Linked DNA regions of Homo sapiens. The protein of the gene in region 4 interacts with the protein of the main gene of each other region in a pairwise test. Each region holds a gene or a part of one and is shown on either strand. Other genes may lie near its edges.

What was found.
Region 1: the proteins of BBS4 (region 4) and HSCB interact in a two-hybrid assay, tested with the Homo sapiens proteins (one study listed by BioGRID and IntAct).
Region 2: the proteins of BBS4 (region 4) and PAX2 interact in a two-hybrid assay, tested with the Homo sapiens proteins (one study listed by BioGRID and IntAct).
Region 3: the proteins of BBS4 (region 4) and ALDOB interact in binary tests that used the Homo sapiens proteins (3 or more experiments, as listed by UniProt).
Region 5: the proteins of BBS4 (region 4) and EIF3A interact in a two-hybrid assay, tested with the Homo sapiens proteins (one study listed by BioGRID and IntAct).
Region 6: the proteins of BBS4 (region 4) and RARG interact in a two-hybrid assay, tested with the Homo sapiens proteins (one large-scale study listed by BioGRID and IntAct).
Region 7: the proteins of BBS4 (region 4) and EPAS1 interact in a two-hybrid assay, tested with the Homo sapiens proteins (one study listed by BioGRID and IntAct).

What each region holds. Positions count from the first base shown.
Region 1 is NC_000022.11:28,745,039-28,748,538, reverse strand, and holds part of HSCB (iron-sulfur cluster co-chaperone protein HscB isoform 1 precursor), read right to left. Parts: intron 2,676-3,500; coding exon 2,531-2,675; exon of another isoform or gene 2,490-2,530; intron 1-2,489.
Region 2 is NC_000010.11:100,776,582-100,780,081, reverse strand, and holds part of PAX2 (paired box protein Pax-2), read right to left. Parts: intron 585-3,500; coding exon 499-584; intron 1-498. UniProt on the Homo sapiens protein: Transcription factor that may have a role in kidney cell differentiation. Has a critical role in the development of the urogenital tract, the eyes, and the CNS.
Region 3 is NC_000009.12:101,420,060-101,422,917, forward strand, and holds the end of ALDOB (fructose-bisphosphate aldolase B), read right to left. Parts: intron 1,846-2,858; coding exon 1,750-1,845; 3' UTR 501-1,749; downstream 1-500. UniProt on the Homo sapiens protein: Catalyzes the aldol cleavage of fructose 1,6-biphosphate to form two triosephosphates dihydroxyacetone phosphate and D-glyceraldehyde 3-phosphate in glycolysis as well as the reverse stereospecific aldol addition reaction in gluconeogenesis.
Region 4 is NC_000015.10:72,692,707-72,696,206, reverse strand, and holds part of BBS4 (BBSome complex member BBS4), read right to left. Parts: intron 1,031-3,500; coding exon 979-1,030; intron 1-978.
Region 5 is NC_000010.11:119,035,818-119,039,317, forward strand, and holds part of EIF3A (eukaryotic translation initiation factor 3 subunit A), read right to left. Parts: intron 2,623-3,500; coding exon 2,421-2,622; intron 1,493-2,420; coding exon 1,302-1,492; intron 452-1,301; coding exon 222-451; 3' UTR 1-221. UniProt on the Homo sapiens protein: RNA-binding component of the eukaryotic translation initiation factor 3 (eIF-3) complex, which is required for several steps in the initiation of protein synthesis.
Region 6 is NC_000012.12:53,210,069-53,212,639, forward strand, and holds the end of RARG (retinoic acid receptor gamma), read right to left. Parts: intron 1,796-2,571; coding exon 1,608-1,795; 3' UTR 501-1,607; downstream 1-500.
Region 7 is NC_000002.12:46,303,907-46,307,406, reverse strand, and holds part of EPAS1 (endothelial PAS domain-containing protein 1), read right to left. Parts: intron 1-3,500.

The DNA.
Region 1 (3,500 bases), on a different chromosome or scaffold from region 4:
TCTGTCTCAAAAACAAAACAAAACAACAAAAAAAAACGCTTGGGTTTCAAAAAGATTCCAGTGACAGTGAAGGGATTTGTTAGATGGGGCCTGAAGGTACGGACAGACCAGTGAAAAGCTACTGCAGTTGTCCAGGTGAGAGTGAATGGTAGCTTGGAAAAGGCTGGTGGCAGTGAAAGTAGAGATGGGTGGATGAATTTGAGGCAAATTTAAGTCAGCTCTTTCAGATGTAATAGATTGACTATGGGCATAAGGAAGAAGAAGGTTGTTAAGGCCTCCTCAGAATTTACGCTTGTGCAAGTGGTGTCACTCTCTCAGGGAACACTGGAAGAGGAACAGATTATTATTATTTTTTATTCGGAGTCTCGCTCTGTCACTCAGGCTGGAGTGCAGTGGCACAATCTCGGCTCACTGCAACCTCCGCCTCCCGGGTTCAAGCGATTCTCCCGCCTCAGCCTCCCGAGTAGCTGGCACTACAGGCGTGTGCTAACACGCCCGGCTAATTTTTTATATTTTTAGTAGAGACAGGGTTTCATCATGTTACCCAGGATGGTCTTGATCTCCTGACCTCGTGATCTGCCTGCCTCGGCCTCCCAAAGTGCTGGGATTACAGGCGTGAGCCACTGCACCCAGCCTAAGAGGAACAGATTTTTTTGGGGGGGAAAGGTGGGGAGGGGAGACACTTGGGAATTCCATTTTGGGTACAGTTGACATATATAAACTCCAAGAAGGCACAGTCTTTCTTGTTCCGTGCTGTATCCTCAGTGTCATGCACAGTGCTTGATATTTGTAGGTACACTACAAATATTTGTGAAAGTACATAACTGAATATAGTCTAACGGAGAACCTTGGAATCTTTTCTATGTGGAATGGTTAATTTTATGCGTCAACTTGGCTAGGCTATGGTGCCCAGTTGCTTGATCAAACACTAATCTATGCCAGGCACATTGAGTCACACCTGTAATCCCAGCACTTTGGGAGACTGAGGAAGGTGGATTGCTTTGAACCTAGGAGTTTGAAGCCAGCCTGGGCAACATGGTGAAACCCCATCTGTATAAAAGACAGAAAAAATTAGCCAGGCATGGTGATGCATGCCTGTAGTCCCAGCTATCCAAGAGGCTAAGGTGAGAGGACTGTTTGAGCCCATGGGTCAAGGCTGCAGTGAGCTGTGATTGCAACACTGCGCTCCAGCCTGGGTGACAGAGTGAGACCATGTCTCAAAAAAAACAAAAACCAACTAGTTTAGATGATCCTGTGAAAGTATTCGTAGATGTGATTAACATTTATAATCAGTTGACTTTAAGTAACAGATGTTACTCTATATAATGTGGGTGGGCCTCATCCAATCAAGTAGAGGCATTAAGTGCAAAAACAGGTTTTCTGGGAAGGAATTCTGTATCAAGACTGTAACATAGAAATCCTGCCTGGACTTTCAGCCTGCTTATCTACCCCTATAGATTTTGTTTATTTTTTTTGTGACAGGGTCTCACTCTGTCACTCAGGCTGGAGTACAGTGGTGTGATCTCAGCTCACTGCAACCTCTGCCTCCTGGGCTCAGATGATTCTCCCACCTCATCCTCCTGAATAGCTGGGACCACAAGTGCGCACCTCCACGCTTGGCTGATTTTTTTTTTTTTTTTGAGACGGAGTCTCACTCTGTCGTCCAGGCTATAATGCAGTGGCACGATCTGGGCTCACTGCAAGCTCCGCCTCCCAAGCTCAAGCGATTCTCCTGCTTCAGCTTCCCGAGTAGTTGGGATTACAGGCATGCACCACCATGCCTGGCTAATTTTGTATTTTAGGCAGAGACGGGGTTTCTCCATGTTGGCCTGGCTGGTCTCGAACTCCCAACCTCAGGTGACCCACCCGCCTTGGCCTCCCAAAGTGCTGGGATTACAGGCGTGAGCCACCACACCTGGCCTACGCTTGGCTGATTTTTTTGTATTTTTTTAGAGATGGGGTTTCGCCACGTTGCCCAGGCTGGTCTCGAACTCCTGGACTCAAGTGATCTGCCTTCCTCGGCCTCTCAAAATACTGGGATTACAGGCATGAGCCACTGTGCCCAGCCCTACCCTATAGATTTTAGATGTGTCAGCTCCCACAATTATGTGAGCTAATTCCTTAAAATAAATAACCTTTTTTTTTTTTTTTTTTTTTTGAGATGGAGTCTCGCTCTGTCGCCCAGGCTGGAGTGCAGTGGCCTGATCTCCGCTTACTGCAATCTCTGCCTCTCGGGTTCACGCCATTCTCCTGCCTCAGCCTCCCGAGTAGCTGGGACTACAGGCACCCGCCACCACGCCCGGCTAATTTTTGTATTTTCAGTAGAGACAGGGTTTTACCATGTTGGCCAGGCTGATCTTGAACTCCTGACCTCAGGTGATCCACTTGCCTTGGCCTCCCAAAGTGCTGGGATTATAGGCGTGAGCCACTGCACCCGGGCCATTATATACTCTACGTTCATTTTTCACTAATCCTTGGACAAGTGTTCATAACAGCAATGAAATACATTCAGTGCTATTTTATCTTTCACCTTTGACAATGGATTCAATCTCTTTCATGGCAGCTTCACTTTCAGCTTCTGCGAGTTTTTCATTGATTTCCATTATTTCTATGAGGAATTGCCTGTCCATTTCATAATCTGTCCTTTCAGGAATCTCTATTCCATGGAGCTTTAGCTATTGGGGTAGAAAGCAAGAAAAATAAGTTGAAGAAGCTATGGGCAGAGTAATGTAAATCCTACTCATCCATTAGGAAATAATACCACTAATAGAGAAAACTGCAACTGTCCCGATAATGAAAGACTAAGGGGTATCAAAAGCTTGGACTGAAACAGAAATGCTGGAATGGGATTTCCACTCATGCTACCCAAAACTATGTGACCTTGGTGTGATCTTGGGGTAGTCATTCCTCCACTCAGAGGTTGAACTAGATGTTTGTAAAGATTCTATTCAATTATAAAATTTTCTAGATTGTAAGATACTTTTTTTTTTTTGAGATGAAGTCTCACTCTGTCGCCCAGGCTGGAGTGCAGTGGTGTGATCTCAGCTCACTGCAACCTCTGCCTCCTGGGGAAGCAATTCTCTGCCTCAGCCTCCCGAGTAGCTGGGATTACAGGCACCCGCCACCATGCCCGGCTAATTTTTTTGTATTTTTGGTAGAGGCGGGGTTTCACCATCTTGACCAGGCTGGTCTTGAACTCCTGACCTCGTGATCCACCCGCCTCGGCCTCCCAAAGTGCTGGGATTACAGGCGTGAGCCACCATGCCTGGCCTCTTAAGATACTCTGGAGAGGAAAAAAAAACAAAACAGAAAATGACTCTTAACTAAAAGCTACCATCATCAAATCCTTGAAATTCACAGAAAAAAGCTAGAAAATCACAATTTAAAAAATGCAGTTGAGGCAAGTAATATTCACAGAGAAAATTATACTTGTGCTCTGAGGCTAAATACTATTGGGTCCCTGGACTTTTTTTTTTTTTTTTTGAGAGGGTGCAGTAGTA
Region 2 (3,500 bases), on a different chromosome or scaffold from region 4:
GAGGGAAGGGCAGAGGGAGAAAAGAAGAGGAGCCAAGGGGAGAAGACAGAGGACAATGTTAAGAACAAGATGGAATGTTAAACAAAGATGGAATAAGAAAGTTGATATAAAAGAAAGAGGGCACAGGTAGGGAGACAGAATCAGATAAAAACAAAAGATGTTGGAGAATGAGGGAGAGGGAAGCAGGAGGAGGAGAAGAAGAAAAAGAAGAAGAAATGCTAGAAGAAAAACACTTAAGAGAGAGGAGAGGAGGGGAGAGGATAGGGACTGACTAAAGCAGGGCAGAGGGAGGTGACACAAGTGGGAGGCAGAGAACAGTCCTAGAGAACCAGTATCTCTCAGGAAGACCCTATGTGGACAGGAGCTCAGGTGAGAGGAGTTGGCAAATAGGTTGGGCTCTGGACCTCAAGCGGGCAGGCAGTTCCCAGGGGTGGAGCTGCGTTTCCTGCCTTTCTCTAGGTGGGATCTGGTTTCCTCCCCTTCCCTGAGCCCTCTTACCAATGGTGTGGCCAGGGGCGGTCACTCCTGTCCCAGCCCCATCCGGCGTTGGGTGGAAAGGCTGCTGAACTTTGGTCCGGATGATTCTGCAACAGCGTCACAACAGCATCACACATCAAATGCCCACTCCTATCCCGGCCAATTCCAGCCCAGCCCTGCAAAGGGGCTCTCTCCCAAGTTCCTCAGCGATTTCCTCATCCATCTGCTCCCTGTGTCCCTGCCCTCACTGACTGCTGCAAGGCACAGGGTTTTCCTTCTGTTGGCTCCGCAGATCCAACGTAATGCAGCTCTGGGTGAATGCAGCCTGCCTTATGTCCTGCTATGTGCATCACCCAAATTATTGTTTGATTTTTGGTAGCAAAGATCAGGGCAGAGACCCAGTGAGCACAGCATCCTTTCTTTTTCTGCAGGGTGAGGACTGCCCTAGTGGCTTGTTGTCCACCTTTCTCTCCTCAACCACACACGCATCTCTTCCTGGTACCAGGACCTCCTGGGTTTTGAGATCATTTTGGAGCTGGCTTTCCTACTTGGGACTGTGTCACAGTCCTTCAGAGTTGAGAGGATGAGATTTCCCCATATCCTGAAAGAATGAGAAGTAGCCAGGGAGGGGCTGGGTCACAGGTGACCCTTTCTTTTGTCCCCAGGACTCCAACACAGCACACAGTCCCTTTGCCAGATGTCAGGCTGAACAATCTCTTCTTGAGCCCACTTACTGCCCTCAAACAAGTCAGAGCCCTGTTCCTATATGGCTGGCTGGTTTGCTGGCCTCCTTTTCTGAGGTTCTTACTTGGATTGCAGCGTCTTTGCCAGCCTGGTTGAAAGGTCTGGTGCCCTCCCTGTACATCCTGGGGAGAAGGGGCCAAATCAAACATTCCAGGAGCCTGCTTTTCAGGGATCTGAAAAACCGAGGGCTCAATGATGCCAAAGACCAGTCCCAGGGCCAAGACGGAGGAATGCTCCCCCTACCCACTGGTCAAATGAGGGGCCTTTGGAAGCCACTTTTCTGATAGCGTTCCTTGTCCCCACAGAGAGGCATGTGAGCCAAGCTCACCTCAACCAGCCAGGTGAGTCACAAGCCATGAGCAAGTCAGCTCTAAAAGCTTTTCCTGAACACTTGCAGGCAGTTGGGATAAGGCCCCTAGCTCACAGTGCTGGATATGAAGGTGGGGAGGGGAGACTTAATCCCCAAAAAAGCTCAGTTACCCGAGGGAATCAGGTAGTTAGTGCTGGAAACTTGGAGGAGAGGAACCATTCCCCTTGCAGGAGAGGGAACTGCGGAAGAAGTCGCTGAACAGAGGGAAATTGATGTAGATCTTCAAAGCCAAGTAGGGCTGAAATCAGAGGCACAGAGGATGGCGGAAAGGACACTGGGCTGCATGGCAGGGGCCCTGAGTCCTGCTTCTGATTTTGCATTTAAGAAGCCACATAGCCTTGGTCTCACCTCTCAACTTCTCTGGGCCTCAGTTTCTTCAGCTTTAAATGAAGGGGTTGGACTACAGGATCTCCACTGTCTCTTTCCCCAGTAAAAAATAACTTGATCCTAAGATGAACAAAGAAGTAGAGGGGAGGGCATCACAAGCTGGTGGAAGCGGAAGCCACGCGAGCCTGCTGCCTTCTGGGTTAATGCCCAGAGTGGTCAGCCAGAATGAGTGGAGACAGGCAAGGGACTAAGAGGAAACAAGAATGAAAACTTGGATGTGATGAGAACCATCACCATTTTCCACTTACTGAACATCTACTATGTGCCAATATTATACACAATTTATATGACATATATATTACTGTTAATTCGCACAACCACCTCCAAAGTAGAGACTATTATCCTCATTTTGCAAATTGAAAACCAAAGCTGAGACAAGTTTAAGTAGCTCACTCAAGATCACACTACTGGCTGGGTGCAGTGGCTCACGCCTGTAATCCCAGCACTTTGGGAGGCCAAGGCGGGTGGACCACCTGAGGTCAGGAGTTTGAGACCAGCCTGGCCAACACGGTGAAATCTCGACTCTACTAAAAGTACAAAAATTAGCCAGGCATGGTGGCAGATACCTGTAATCTTAGCTATTCAGGCAGCTGAGGCAGGAGAATTGCTTGAACCCGGGAGGCGGAGGTTGCAGTGAGCCAAGATCAAGCCACTGTACTCCAGTCTGGGCAATAGAGTGAGACTCCATCTCAAAAAAAAAAAAAAGGCCAGATGCGGTGGCTCATGCCTGTAATCTCAGCACTTTGGGAGGCCGACGCAGGCAGATCACGAGGTCAGGAGTTTGAGACCAACCTGACCAACATGGTGAAACCCCAACTCTACTAAAAATACAAAATTAGCCAGGTGTGGTGGTATGCACCTGTAATCCCAGCTACTCAGGAGGCTGAGGCAGGAGAATCGCTTGAACCCAGGAGGCGGAGGTTGCAGTGAGCTGAGATTGTGCCTCTGCACTCCAGCCTAGGCGACAGAGTAAGACTCCGTCTCAAAAAAAAAAAAAAAAAAAAAATCACAGTACCAATTAGGGAAGACTCAGAATGCAGCCTCTAAAATCTATGCTTTTTGTTACTTTGTCATCCTGCCCCCAACATGTAGGAACCAGGTTTAGAGGGCCTTAAGCCATGAGTGATTTCTAAACTAGGGGGGATCTCTACAAACAGATCCCAGTAAAGCAACATACATATACATGAGGCATGAGGCGATAGGGAGCTGGTCTCAGGAAAGAAAGGGAAGAATTTGCAAGACAAGAGGAAGGCAGAATGGTCAGAGTTTGGCAACCAACTGGAGTCAACCATGGTTTTACAAACTCAGATTTGTGTAACTGGAAGCTTGGTGGAGTTTACATCAGCAGGTCAGGAATAAGGCTATAGGGAGGTGACTGGTTTTGGAGGGAAGTGGTGATGTTGGTCCTAGATGTGCAGCATTTGAGGTGAAAGAGGAGCGTCCAGGGGCAATGCCCCTGCATCAGCAGGCACACAGAGGTATGGATTTAGGAGACTGTCAGGGACCGGGGAAAGGAGTGTTT
Region 3 (2,858 bases), on a different chromosome or scaffold from region 4:
GTACAAGACTACACCACGGGTGGCAGAGATATTGAACACAGCCTGTCACCTTGCCCTGTAAGATCTCTGGCTGTGTATCCACTTTTTGAGCAAGAGACTTGAGTTCAGAAGACCTGAATTTTAATCTCTCAGCTCTGCTATAAATGTGGGATCCTCAGTAAGTAATTTTACTTCTCTGGACTTGGTTTTATCACCTGTAAAATGAAAACCGTGGGCTTAATAGATCTCTCATATAGGCTTGAGTTGCTTGTATGACTGTCTGTAGTTGTTTTTAGAAAAGTAATGACAAGTACATGGAAATAAATATTCAAATACTGTAGAGGGCAGGTAATAAGGAAATGTCATCTTTCCTGTGCCCTGACTCCCAGGTCTTTCTCCCAGGTCTTAGAGTAAGCCCCTTTGGCTAATTCTGTCTTATTCCTCTAAATAATATGTTAAGTCTCTGTTTCTTCATTTGTTAATCTACACAATACCATTTGTCTTTGTATTATTCAAGGTAAGAAATTTAGCATACTACCATCAATATTTTAATTTTAGATATATATTTTTATGATTTACATCCATTTCTTTTATTACTTAAATAGAATTAAAGCACTATTTCTTAACCCATCAGTTTTAAGTAGTATTCCTGACTCTCTTTGCTTTCTTCCACTTCTCCTCCCCCTTATATTTCCTAGCTTCTGTCAGTTAAATCATCACTTTTATATTGTCCAAAGTTATAATATTTAAATTCTCTTTTATAACTCTGGTTGTCTTAAGTGCTGTAACTATAGGTTAATTCTGAAAATTGAAAGTCAATACAGTATCATTATGTGAATATTATTTACTGCAAAACTACGAAATATGCCTGGACGTGCAGATGACAAGGTAGTCCTGTTTCACCAAACCTGGGCCACTTGAACAAGAATGCTCCAAGCATTGAAGTCACATTAATTCTCTTATTATACTCCACAAGTTGCTCAAAATCATTCTACATTTTTAGCTGGCTTCGTATTGTGAATGGCTTTAATTTTCAAATACCCTCAAACTTGAAATTTAGATTGGTAGTTCTCAAACTTGACTGTACATTGGAATTACTGAGGGAGCTTTAAGAAATCTAATAGTTAGAGGATCCCAAGTCTAGGGTTTCTGATTTAATTGAGCTGGGGTGTGGCCTGAGCATCTCAGTTTTTAAAATTTTGCGGCTTGATTCCAATGACTAGCAAGAGTTGAAGACCTTTACTGTTGAAACCCAGTCATGTCTAGTAGAGTCAAAAGTAATGAAATACACTGAGTCTTTGGACAGCAAGAGCAGAAAAGTGAAACCCGATAGCAGCTGAAGGTTTATAGAATATTTATTTCTTTTTTGGTTGCAGCTATCTCCTTCCCAACCTACCACTGCTAAGACTGTTTCATAAGATGCACTTCTCTACACTCAGCTAATGAGGTGTTTCAATCAGCAGTTGTTCTTTGGATGAGGAGCCGATATTGTTTTAAAGCCTATTATTTTCTTGGGTGGGTATTCTGGAGCATGGGGAGCTGAAAGTGTTGCAAGGAAACTGCTGTGTGAAATTTGATCAGGTCCTTGGTATTCATTTTTATGTTTCAATAACTGATTTATTTTTTCCCCCTTGTACTTAAGATTTAACATGTGTTGTATTTCCAGCAGTTCAAATCTAATTGTGTCGAATTTCCAGGATTGGAGGAAAAGTTGCTCCCTTTCAGCCCTCCTACTAGAAGCACTGGAGCTAGGCTGGCGGGCATTGGACCCTAGTAGGTATAGCAGGCTGTGAAGAGCGACTGGGTGGAAGCAGCCCCAGAAGAACCCGTGTGAACATACTGTCCTTTGGCCGCCTGGCAGTTAGCCTAGAAGACAAATATGAGAGAGGAGACTGGTTAGAGTAAATGTGACCCCACCTTGACCCTGTCTGCCTCTCATGGGAAACCAGTCAAACCTTCACTCAGATTTTCTTCTTTTTACAGCAATGTTGCTGAATATTGCTGGGGATACCATCCCCTTCTATAAAGTATCTCCCCTTTTTATCCCAGTTTTCTGAGCATTTCTTTGGTAAGCTTGAGGTTTGTGTCAGTTACTGGGGAAATCTCTGTTCAGTACCAACAATATTGCAGCAACAGTACTAGAAACTAAAGTTGAAAAATTTCTCACTAGTATAGTACACTATACCAAAAGAAAAACATGTTTATTTTAAAAACATTTCCATTTTCTACCTATATTGGTCTAGAAGAATATGTAATTTTTATTTAGTTATTGTAGTATCATTTGCTTTCCTGTATACATTCCAGTTAAAGATAAATTCAGAATTATGAAACTTACGACAATATTTGAATGTCACTCAGTGGTACCACTTCTTCCAGTCAGTGTTGCTATTGTCTGTTCTCTCCAGGACTTATTTCTACATTTTACATCAATGGTTCTCCAACTGTGTTTCATGGTCTACCAGCATCCCTTAGGAACATGTTAAAAATAGAAATTCCCTGGCCTTACCCCTGACCTACTGAATTAGAAACTCAGTGGGTGAGACCCATAATCTGCATTTTTAACAAGCGCTTCAAGTGGGGGTAGGGGAAATGAAAAGAGGTTGGTAATGGGTACAAAAATACAGTTAGGCAGAAGGAATAAGTTCTAGTGTTTGATACAACAGTAAGATGACTATAGTTAACAATGATTTATTACATATTTTAAAATAGCTGGAAGAGAAGATTTGGAATGTTCCAAACCCAAAGAAATAATAAATATTTGGAGTGAATACCCTAATTATCCTGATTTGATCATTATACATTATATGCATATATAAAAAATCACAGATACCCCACAGATCTATACAATTATTGTGTGTAAATATAAAAGATCATGACAA
Region 4 (3,500 bases):
CCAAGAAATCAGACAATCCTAAATGTATATGCATCCAACAACAGATCTTCAAAATACACAAATCAAAAATTGATAGAACTGAAAGTAGAAACAAATCCACAATTACATTTGCACACTTCAACACTCTTCTATCACCCTTCCAATCAGTAACTACATCAGTAAGAATATGAATATCTGTAATTGTAAGTATATACAGAACACTATCAACCAACTTGACCTAATTGACATTTACAGAATGCTACATCCTACAAGAGCAGAATACACATTATTTCCAAGTGTACATGGGACATGCACCAACACAGGCCACATTGTGGGCCATAAAACAAACCATATAAAGAATGTTCTCTACCCACAATAGAATTAAACTAGAAACCAACAAAGCAAAAAGATACCTGGAACTTCACAAAGTGGTTTTTCCAGAAGCAGAAAATTAGTACACACTTACATAATAATCAAACCCCATTTAAATAATTTCCAGGTCAAACCAACCTCCTAATATCTAATAACTCTATTAAATAAAAGCTAGATGTGACAGAACATTTAGACTATTACTTCTTTTCCCAACACTCATTTTGAAATAATATAGAATAGATAAAAGAATCAACAAGAGAGAGAAATCTGGCCAGGCGTGGCGGCTCACGCCTGTAATCCCAACACTTTGGGAGGCCAAGGTGGGCAGATCACCTGAGGTCAGGAGTTCGAGACCAGCCTGGCAAACACAGTGAAACCTCATCTCTACTAAAACACAAAAGTTAGCCAGGTGTGGTGGCGTGCACCTGTAATCCCAGCTACTCGGGAGGCTGAGGCAGGAGAATTGCTTGAGCCCCAGAGGCAAAGGTTGCAGTGAGCCAAGATTGTGCTACTGCACTCCAGCCTGGGTGACAGTGAGACTCTGCCTCCAAAAAAAAAAATAAATAAATAAATAAAAGAGAAATCTGTCTGTGCAAACATACACATACCATGAAACTGCATACAGACCTTTTTTCTGCCGGGGTTTTTGAGACTCAGTAGATACAGGAAATTGAGTTCTCTGAAATGAAATAAGTAGTCTATATTGAAGCACCACAATATAAACTTGCTAACTTAAAGAAGCATCCAAATAACAAGAATAATCAGTAGCTCACCAATTATGCAATTAATCCATTAAATCCATATTGTGATAGAGTTACTTTAAATATGGTTTAAAAAACAAATGTCAAGTCATACTTTTGCTATCCAAACTATTAACAATGTATAACACATATTTATAATATTTACAATGTGCATTTTTAATGTATAATTATAGTATATAGTAAAATGTGCATAAGAAATATACTCAGTTCTTAAACACCTCATATGAGTATTATACTTGATGCCATACTTCTCAGCAGCCAAACCAAAAAAGTGATCGCTGTTTGATAAAAGGAAGCTTATGAGATCATCTACACAGAAACTGTCTAGCACTCAATTCTAAAAGGGAGATAGTTATTTTCCACTATAACCTCATAGAAAACCATCAAATGAATTTTTCTTTTCTCAACTTCCTATGACATACCACAATATAAGCAAAAATAATGGCTCAAATTTTTCCAGATGTAATGAGAAACACCAATCCTTAGTTTCTGGATACTCAACAAATCCTGACCAGGTTAAATGAAAATAAATACATACTTAGATACATCATAGCGAACTGCACCAGAGACAAGAAGCAGCTCTTAAAAGCAGCCAAACAAGAAAACATATCACCAGATTACCAACAAAGAAAGGACAGTTATTTGAGAGGCCAAGGCGAGAGGATCACTTGAGGTCAGGAGTTCAAGACCAGCCTGGACAACATGGTGAAACCCCGTCTCTACTAAATATACAAAAATTAGCTCGGCATGGTGGCACGTGCCTATAGTCCCAGCTACTTGGGAGGCTGAGGCAGGAGAATGGCTTGAACTTGGGAAGCAGAGGTTGCAATGAGCCAAGATCGTACCATCGCCCCCCGGCCTGGGCAACAGAGCAAGACTACGTCTCAAAAAAAAAAAAAAAGGAAAGAAAGGCCAGACGCCGTGCCTCATGCCTGTAATTGCAGCACTTTGGGAGGCCAAGGCAGGTGGATCACCTGAGGTTAGGAGTTCAACACCAGCCTGGCCAACATGGTGAAGCCCCATCTCTACTAAAAATACAAAAATTAGCTGGGTGTGGTGGCAGGCACCTGTAATCCCAGCTACTTGGGAGGCTGAGGCAGGAAAATCGCTTGAACCCAGAAGGCAGAGGTTGCAGTGGGCCAAGATCACACCACTGCACTCCAGCTTGGGCGATAAGAGCAAAACTCCATTTCAAAAAAAAAAGAAGAAGAAAAAGAAAAACAAAAAAGACTGACAGCTGGCTCTTCAACAATTAAAAATGGAAGACAATATCACAATAAGACATCATAAGAATAATTACTCCAGTGTCAGGTACTAAGTAAAATGAATGTTAATTTAGACCAGAGGTCAGCAAACTATGGCCCACAGGTCAAATCCATCCTGTTTATTTGGTCTACAAGCTACGAATGATTTTTACATTTTTATATGGTTAAAAAAATTCAAAAAATAATAATTTTTAACACATGAAAATTGAGTCAAATTTCAGTGTCTATAAACAAAATTTGTGAGAACATACCCACACTCATGTTTACATAATGTCTATGGTTGCTTTTGTCCTACAACAGCATTGCTGAGTAGTTGTCAGAGAGACTCTATGGCCCACAAAGCCCACAATATTTACTATCTGGCCCTTTACAAAAAAAGGTTTGCTAACACCTGATCTAGATTCTCTCACCCATCAAAACTAATTTTCAACAACAAAGGCAAATTTTTAAAACTTTCAGAATTTGAGAGTTTTTAGATTCTCACCAAATAAACTTTTAATGAAAATATATTAGGAAAAAGAAAAATAATCCCAGAACAAAGGAGTGGAATAAGCAAAGGAATTGGTAAAATAAGCAAGTATTCTAAGCATCTACTGACTGAATAAAACAAACAAAAAGCATAATTTGTGGTGTTTAATTAAAATACATTAAGAACTACAAAACTAAACAACAATGGCATACATTTGCAGATGGCAATAGATGGTAGTAAAGCATTTGATGGTCCCTGTAGTAGCAACATTTAGGCCTGGACTTACAGTAAACATGTATTTTTTAATTTCTTTGGTACTCATTAAAGGAAGGCAAAGTATAACTTCCAAGGCATGAAATAAGAGGAGCAGAAAGGGAGGGGTAACAGATGGAAATTCAGTTTTTTTAAAAAAAAGAAAGGAGGTAGAAAAAAATGCAATTCTCCAGTTTAAGACAGATAGATCAGCCAGGTGTGGTGGCTCACACCTATAATCCCAGCACTTTGGGAGGCTGAGGCAGGAGGATCACACGAGCCTAGAAATTTGAGAACAGCTTGGGCAAAACAGCGAGACTCTGCCTCTATAAAAAAAACTTTAGAAATTAGCCAGGCATAGTGGCAGGTGCCCTTAGTCCTAGCTACTCAGAAGGCTGAGGT
Region 5 (3,500 bases), on a different chromosome or scaffold from region 4:
AACACCCTTAAATTCCAGAAAATGGCATGGTTTTTCCAACCTCCTGTGGATATGGTGCATGATCAATCTATTATATAGGATTAATACAAGTTCATGCTTTTTGTGTTATGGTGAAACAACATTAAAGAATCCAATTTAGATTGGTTGAAGCACAAGTATAATAATCCTTGAATGTGATCAAACCTATTTAAGACACCAGTTTAAATCCATTATCTTGAGACTTAACGTCGTACTGTGGTCCATCCATCTTCATCAGTCTCATTTTTAGTACGACGGAGAGATTCCCTATCTTTCTCAGCTCTCCATGAGGCCTTCTCTTTTTCACCTTCTCTTTCTCGGTCTCGGTCTCTTTCTCGGTCTCTTGAAAGAGCTGGGGGAGGAACTCGACGAGGAGGGTCCCGCTCTTCCACCCGGTCATCTTTCCTGTCATCAGCACGTCTCCAAGAACTTACTAAAAAGTTTAATTAAAAAAAAAAAATTAAGTTAGTACTATATTCTATTGGCTCAAATTACTCAAAATTCCTGTACTAAAGATTGTTAAATACAGAAATCATTGTTAAATACAGAAATTCTGTTAAATTCTGTATTGTTAAATACAGAAATCATAATGAAAGCTCATACAATTTCTGACAATCTTTAACATACAAATGTACAGATAAAACTCAAAATCTGAAAACAGGCAGAAACCACTAGCCTGGGAAGGACTACAGTTAGTATAAACCCGTAAGACAAGGTGGCAAAAATCTGGCTGAATGAAAATTTTATAACTGAAAGGATTTTTGGCTCTTGAAGAATTTTAACAGCAAATTAACCATACAAAATACAGGAGTTTTTAAAGTTATGGCTATGAGAGAAAAATTCTCTCATAACAGGATGTCAAGACATATGGAAAATTAATTTTTAAAAACCAAGAGAAAAATGAGGATTTTAAAAATGAAAAATACATATATTTTAAAACAGAATAAACTTCTGTTACAATTTCAGAGAAAATGTTTCTACTTTGTGCTTAATCTGCCAGGAAGCTGCTTTTAAATAACAATTTTTTTCATTTTTATTAAGTAAACTTTATATATATTGCCTGCTATCCAATTTAGTCTACTACTGTACTTTGAATTTAGAGATAAGTGCACTTTACAACATGACCATTGAGTAACTGTATGAAAATCATGAATTCTAAATAGAATATCAACTCTCTTATTGTTGGCCTTCATACAAATTTATGATATAATTAAATAACCCAAATCCCCCCCCCCCCAGAAACGACAGTTCTCCAATACTTCAGTTGTATGTAACCTCTATACCTTCTTCACGTTCTGATCTGAGTGGAGGTCCTCTTCGGTCCCTGTCGTCTCTTAGATCTCGTCTTTCTCTTAGATCACGCCGGTCATCCCTCTCACGGCGACGGTCATCCCTATCCCTATCGTCCCGGCGACTTGAGTCTCTCCAGCTTGAAGATTCCTCAGCTGGTCCTCTTCTCCAGCCACCTTCATCCCTGTAGCCATTTACAATGACAGGTCAGGTTCTTACTGTTAGACCAAATGGATAATTATAAGTACATCCAGTCCAAGCTGGGGCTTAGAGTTTACAAATATAACAGACAGTTTAAACTCATAACCTGACCTTACCTGATGCCTGGGGCGTGGAGAACAAATGAGAACACCCAGATCTGTGCCGTCCCACTCGTTAGCCACTACCCATATGTGGTTACTTACATTTAAAGTAAAACGGAGATATTTCCTTAGGACCATCAACCATATATTCTAAGTGCTTGGCTGCCAAATGTGACTGCTGACTACCATACTGGCCAGCAGACACATTTTCTTCCTTGAAGAAAATTGCATCGAACACTGCTGGTCTACATTTGTCAGTACAAGGACACTTTGGCAGCGGGAACAAGCTAGAACTTCTACTACTAATAAAATCAAAGGGCTTTTGATAATTTAAGGGCAAGAAAACTGACTGCCCTAAACCACAGGGGTAAAAGCAACGGACTGACAAAGATGGCTGGACTGGTTCCAATGCCCAACGGGTCACACAGCCTTTGGACAGCCACGAAGTTTGGGCCTCCATTTTCTTACTTTAAGAGGGAATTTTTTTTTTTTTTTTTTTTTTTTTTGAGACGGAGTTTTGCTCTTGTTGCCCAGGCTGGAGTGCAATGGCGCTATCTCGGCTCACCACAACCTCTGCCTCCCGGGTTCAAGCAATTCTCCTGCCTCAGCCTCCTGAGTAGCTGGGATTACAGGCATGCGCCACCACGCCCGGCTAATTTTGTATTTTTTAGTAGAGATGGGGTTTCACTATGTTGGCCAGGCTGCTCTCGAACTCCTGAACTCAGGTGATCCGCCCTCCCAAAGTGCTGGGATTACAGGCATGAGCCACTGCGCCCGGCCTCTACAAATAATTTAATTAGAGCATCACACCTAGGTCTTCTGAAGCGATCCTCTCGATCCACATCTCTCTCTCTGTCCCTTTCTCTCTCAGGGTCCTTGTCATTCTCCTCCCGATCTTGATTATCTCTGTCCCTTTCTTTTTCTCTGTCCCATTCACGTTCTTCTGATGGCCTTGATTCTCGAGGTGGACCCCAGCTCTCCTCTCTGGCTTTTTCTTTCTCTCTCCATCCACCTGTTTTTTTGAAAAAGCAAAACATTTTTAAAATATTTTTAAAAGAAGAAACAGATTGGCAATCATGAATAGACGTTGGCATTAATTCATCATCATTCTAAATGCTAATTTAAGACACTGATTAAAAAAATACTAAAGCTGTGTACATCACTGCACAGACATCATTAACAGTATCTTAAACTTATATGAGAAACTTAAAATGGGCCGGGCATGGTGGCTCACACCTGTAATCCCAGCACTTTTGGAGACCGAGCCAGGTGGATCACTTAAGGTCAGGAATTCGAGACCAGCCTGGCCAACATGGTAATAACCCTGTTGCTACTAAAACTACAATTAGCCAGGTGTGGTGGTGCGCCTGTAGTCCTAGCTACTTGACTTAGGAGGCTGAGGCATGAGAACTGCTTGAACCTGGGAGGCAGAGGCTGCAGTGAGCCAAGATAGTGCCACTGTACTCCAGCCTGGATGACAGAATGAGACTGTCTCAAAAAACAAACAGGAAAAGAAAAAAAAATACCAAAAACCTTAAATGATCTGTGTTAAGTGTTCCATAAAACAAAAGTATCACTGAAAATTTTAGAATTTTTCCTATTGCACGCAGATTTCAGCATAGTATCTGTTCTGATGTTACACAGATCACTCATTTAAGCAGAAACTTCAAGAGTTTTCTCTGAGTCCCAATTTTGAGGTATTTATACCTTGCAACGTTTTCAAGCCCTTCATATCCAAAAAACAATCTTTCCTTTTATATTCCTGTCCTCCACCATTTGCCACCCATTATCTAGTCATTAATCATGAATAAATCCTTTAACCCTGCACAGTGGCTCACACTTATGCATGGAATATATGAATCTAGGAACATTTTATATACAGTACATATA
Region 6 (2,571 bases), on a different chromosome or scaffold from region 4:
AGACGCAGTGGCTCACGCCTGTAATCCCAGCACTTTGGGAGTCCAAGGCAGGCGGATCACCTGAGGTCAGGAGTTCGAGACCAGCCTGGCCAACATGGCGAAACCTGTCTCTACTAAAAATAAAAAAAATTAGCTGGGCGTGGTGGTGCACCCCTGTAATTGCAGCTACTCGGGAGGCTGAGGCAAGAGAATTGCTTGAACCTGGGAAGTGGAGGTTACAGTAAGCCGAGATCACACCACTGCACTCCAGCATGGGCGACAGAGTGAGATTCTGAACCCACACCTGGTGGTTGTGGGAAACCCGGTCACTCAGGGTGAGTCCCCATGGGCTCCCTTTCCCCCATCCTGTCCCCACCACAATCCAGGCACACTTCATCCTGTTTTCTTCTACCAAGAAAGCTGCAAAGTCCAATCAATTACAAGCTTTCCCTCCTCACTCAGCTCCCTCACCAGGTCAGCTGGTCATTTCCCTACCACCTCCTAAAGGGAGCCACATCTCATGAGTTTCCATCACTTTATTTTGCAAAAATAGAAAACTCAGCAATATGCGATACAGCGGGGTAGAGGGGAGATGTAAACAGAGGGGAGGGGACAGCACCCTGACCCCCCAAGAGAACACAGGGAGCCAATGGGAATCTTATTTGGCAGCTAAATACAAACTGGGGATTGGAGGAAGAAAGGAGGGGTCACAGGGGCCCTGGGCTCCCCCACCCAAGACCCCTGGAGGAAGGGGTCAATTCCACGGTGTAAACAAAAGCTAATAAATAAATAGAGGCTTCCTCTGGGTCAGGGCGGGATCAGCTAAGCAGCATCCCCCCTCCCTGGGCCAAGCTGCTCTGGGGAGTAAAGGGTGGAAGGCACTAGGGAGAGAGGGATCCCCTGGCCCCTCTGTAGTGTAGGAGGGTCCCTGCCCCAATGGCTGAGATGGAGGGCAGGAGGAGCCCAAGGCACATGACAGGGCTGGGGGAGGGACTTATAACGGAGGGCACAGGGTGAACTCTGCACCCGAGCCAAGAGGTGCAGAATGGACCTGCATCTATCTGTCCCTTTCACCCTCTGTTCCTGCCCCAGAAATGCAGGGCCCAGCCTGCCCCCACCTTGACCTGGCACAAGGACGGGGCACAGAGGCTAGCACACACCCTGCAGGTGCATCACACAGCATTAGGCACCAAGGGTAGGAGCAAGAAGGTGGGCTCAGCCCTTCTCCTTTGTCCCCTTTTTGGTCTCTAGTGTTCCTGTTTGCTCTCAGAGAGCCAAGCACCTGGCAGAGGAAGGGGCTGTGGAATGGCAGGGTCTTCCTCTTGCCCTGGGAAGTCTAGGACCCATGGGGCAGTGCTGAGATTTTAGAGTCCAAACCCAGGCTCATCCCTTTGCCCTCTCTCCTGGTGGGAGCAGGGCAGGCCCCCGGGACTGGCGAGGGAGCCGGTTAGATCAGGAAGGGGATGAACACAGAGGCACCCCTAGAAACTTTGGCAAAAACAAGGAGCTCATTGGAAGGGGTGGGGAGAGGGCAGAGCAGGTCCTCCCCCAGTCACTGGCGGTCTGGGAGATGGTCAGTCTGCTGCCTGAAGCCCCAACCCCCACAGCGGGGAGGTCAGGGGCCCTGGTCAGGCTGGGGACTTCAGGCCCCCTTTGCCCTGGCCCCCAGGAACCTCATCCTCGCTAGAGGCATTGGGGTGGGGACCAGGCTGCGAGGAGTCATCCTCAAACATTTCAGGGTTCTCCAGCATCTCTCGGATTAAGGGAGGCATCGGGCCTGGAATCTCCATCTTCAGAGTAATGGCCCTTTCAGCTCCTACAATGGAGAGAGAAAGAGAGAGGCTCAGGAGGACAGAGGCACATGGCCCTTAAGGCCATCTCCCTAACCTTTCTCAACTGCCCCTGACTCCCCTAGGGGGCGCCCAGCACAGGCCCACCACCTCTCCGTCCCCAGCTCATCCTCTTCTCACTAGGCTTCCTGGGTGCCACTCCTCTGCCTGGAACCTCTACCTGGCCTTCTCTACCAGGCTTGCTGCCCATTCATCCCATTCTTTCAGGCTGTCTCTTCAGCGAGCGCAATGCACACAACTTCCAACCCCACTCCCCAAGTACCCCACTCTCGAATGTCCAGAGCTTGTCACTTGTTCCTAGTCCTGTTCTCTTAATAACATTTATTACCACAGCTAATATTTATCAAACACTATGTTCCAGACATCCTTCTAAGCCTGGACTGTCCAATAGAACTTTGCAATGATAGGAATACAGTAGTCATTGGCCACATGTGGCAATCTGAAATGTGACTACTGCAACTGCAGAATGGAATTTTTAATTCAGCACAATTCTAAGTACACTGTATATGTTACAGGTTTTTTTTGTTGTGTTGTTGTTGTTGTTGTTGTTTTAGAGGCAGGGTCTTGCTGGGTTACCCAGGCTGGACTGCAGTGGCTATTCACAGGTACAATCATAGCTCACTGCAGCTTCCAACTTCTGGCCTCAACTGATCTTTCTGCCTCAGCCTCCTGAGTAGCTGGAACTACAGATGTGCACCATGGTGCCTGGCTTTACATTGTATATTAACTAATTTAGTCCTCA
Region 7 (3,500 bases), on a different chromosome or scaffold from region 4:
GAAATGTGACCTTCATACTTTCCTTATCTTAATATCTGGGTAAACATTTGTTGTGCAAGCACACAAATAAAGGTTCTAAAGGTGAAATGTGGTGTGTCCAGCAACACCACACTGCTCCAAACCCAGGCCCCAGAGAGTCCTTTTGGCTCTGCAGAGGACTTCTCTCTCCCTTCACCCTGGGCACCAAGGCACCAAAATTAGCTTCGTTGACCTCAGCCAGCTCTGGAGTGAACGCTGCCATTCGAAAATAGCATCTGAGAACTCTTGGAAACACAGGAGAGAAATACAAGGGTACAGTGGTTTACAGAAACTTACTGCGAAAGCAATCTCACTGGAGTGCTTTTTTAACTAAATACACAGGAAAGGGGCATTATGAGGATTTACTCCAATCTGTGGAAAGTGAATTATATGCTTCTAGCTCCCATCCTGATTAATTCTATTAAGTGTGATTGTTTTCATTTAGAAAAATATTGCAGAGGTAATGTTCATAAAGAGAGTTTGTCAAATGACCCATGCTTTGACCCAAAATTTTGCTGTACTAACTTGCACAGTCCTATTATTTCTAGACACTCTCTAAAAACATTGTGTCTCATTTCCCCATATATTTGATATATGTGATTTTTAAAATCTTGTCTTGAAATGCAGAAGGAAGGATTCTCAAGCAGTTCCTCAAAAGGCACAATTTTCTGTTGTTTCTATGTGGAATTCATAAACAAAGCCAAGTAACCGAGTTTTTATGTGTGCTTAAAGGCACTCTTTCCTGCAACTGTGTGTGACGTATTTTTCCAGGACAATCTTTCTCAATACTCCAAAGTGCTTCAGTAACAGGAAGTCATAAAGGTAGGAAGGAGGCCTGTAAATATTTGCTGTAATTGCTCATTAGTAATGAGAATGGCTGGCATTGAATTTTGAGTCACCCTTTTGTGCTCATGGCTCATTACCTTGTAACTGGAGCCCAAGGTGGTACATATGGGCTTTCCCTCACCATGGACAACCAGGTCCACTTCTAGGTTTTACTTCAGACAGTGTGGCTTGTTTCTCTCAGCACCTCCATTTCCCAAATATAAAGGAAGGAAAGCATGCTGGTCTTCTTGCTCCCTGCCCCCTAACCAGAGGCAGTCAGGAAAAAACTTATACAAAGTAGTGACAGTATGCAAAGTTTTTATCAAAAGTGAAATGTGTGTATTTTTTTAATACTATACTAATACAACATCGAGAGACAGATAAATACTGTCTGGGTAGACACACAGCACAATGATTTAAATGATTACCAAAAAATAATCATATACTTTAATGGATGTATTTTAAACAACTTATAAAATGCTTCTGAACTTTCTCAGATTCAGCTCATGTGTCCTCTTATTCATAACAAGCCACTGACTCCCCTTAGTCACAGGCCAGCATCAGGGCACCTCGGACTAAAAATGAGACCAAAACACTCAACCCGTTACAGAATTGATTAACTTCTAAGAATACTATTGGCTGTACCCCCTGCTTCTGGGGGCAGCCTACAGGGCAATGGGGGTTACCTTCAGCACCACAATCATGAGTACAACATAATGGATCCACTTTCCTGCCCACGTGTTTGATTACACGGCCTAACCAGATAAAATCACTAATTTGTTAAGATTGCTACCACTTATCTCTTAGTTTTTTTAATAGGAGAGTTCCATGGCTGGGGATGGGGGGATAGTTCAAGAAGTCACTAGGGGTGTATGAGACACTTCTAACAATCCACTTCCATGGCTTTATAGAATTCACAAAACGTCAGATGAGTACATGGCAAATAAACATATGTTTCAATGGGGTCATTTTTCTCATTGACAAGACACCCTTTCTGAAATATTTTTCCACATGAGAAAAGGATCTGTTCACAGGATCATTATCTGGCATGGAAATTACTTATAACTTTAAAACTGAGGAATCTTTCCAAGTTCGGGGGAGTGGGGGCAGTGGGAAATGTGCCTCCTGGAAACATGTGGAACTTCTGGCAGTGATGTCATCTAGTAAGAGTTTTGCTGACGTACAAGTGGCCCCTGCAAACAGCCTAAGGCAGTCAAGCAAACAGGTATTTCTTAAGAAATTAGAAAAAACAAGGTCACTTAGAAGTGGATAACATTCTTGTCCATTCCACACCTGACTCTTCAGCTCCAGGTATCTCACAAAGGGTCTCGCCACTCTTCTTCACTTTATGCTTTCATCAGATCAGTTATGGGGCTTCCAACAGTGGGAACAGACAAGGGTCACCAAATTACACCCAACATCTACTTGAAAATTACAGATGCTATTAGGGGCATCCCATGGATGACCACCACATCGACTGTGATGCACAGTTGCCAACACGGCTTGCTTCTCTCTTGATTAAGGTATGTGTCAATGCAATTCTGTTTGGCAGCACTAGAAAAACTCAAGGTACCCTCTAGGTTCACAGTGCAGGGGCCAACAGTGTGATGGCTGTTAAGGCTCAGGGCTCATCAGCGAAAGGGCTCTATAGAAATGCAACATGCTATTATCACAACAATCATAGCTATTCTTTATCCCCCTATCCATTCTTTCCTTCCTGTGCTTGCAATTTCAAAAGATCAAAAGAGCCACAGGAAGTCCTGTGCATCTTGATGGTTCTTCAGAAGCCACAGAGGAAGAGCTTCTAACAGGTTCTCCTGCACAATGGAGTCCGAAGGCTGAAGTAATTATTGAAGTCTTGCCACCAGCGAAGGGTGGGATGTGGAAAGCTTTGAATTTCTTGGGGCAGGAGAGAACCACCTCTTGTCAGGGTCTAGGAAAACCCATGAAAAATAAGAAATTCAAGGAGTTCCATGTTGGCCTTTCAGATCTTCAATCCCTATCTGCTTGTGAGGTTTGATGCAAGTGATAAATCACAAAAAAGAAAAGTAATTATAATTACAAGGAAAACAACAAAGGCAGTTGTCATTTATAGAGCACTTATTGTGAGTCAGAAGCAGTATTAAATACTTTATAGATATCTTCAGTAAGGGAAGGGCGTATGGAACACCCATTGAGAGTATAGACTCTGGGGACCTCCTTTACTCAGGTTGAATGCAGCTCTGCCCATGCTACCTATACGACCTTGGGCAGTTAGCCCTTCTAGACTTCAGCTTTCCCATCAATGAAGTGGGGATAATAACAGGGCTTATCTCACAGGATTAAAAAGTTAATCCATGTAAAGTTCTGAGGACGGCACTGGCACAAATAAGACTGTCAGTTTTTTGTGTTGTCCTGATGCAAAATATAATTTCTATTAAGACCACATACATTCCTAGAACATGAAGGTCATCCAAATAACTGTTTGAGGATGATGGAACATTTGAGGATAAATTTGTTTTCACAGTCATTTTTCAGAAGCATTAATAAAATGAATCATACCAGTATTTACCCTGTGCAGGGCACTTGGCTTCCCGTCCTTCCAAGACTGAGGGCAGACATGTAGGTGGACGGACACGCCAGCCAGGGACAGGGAAGATTAAGCGGCACCTCAGAAC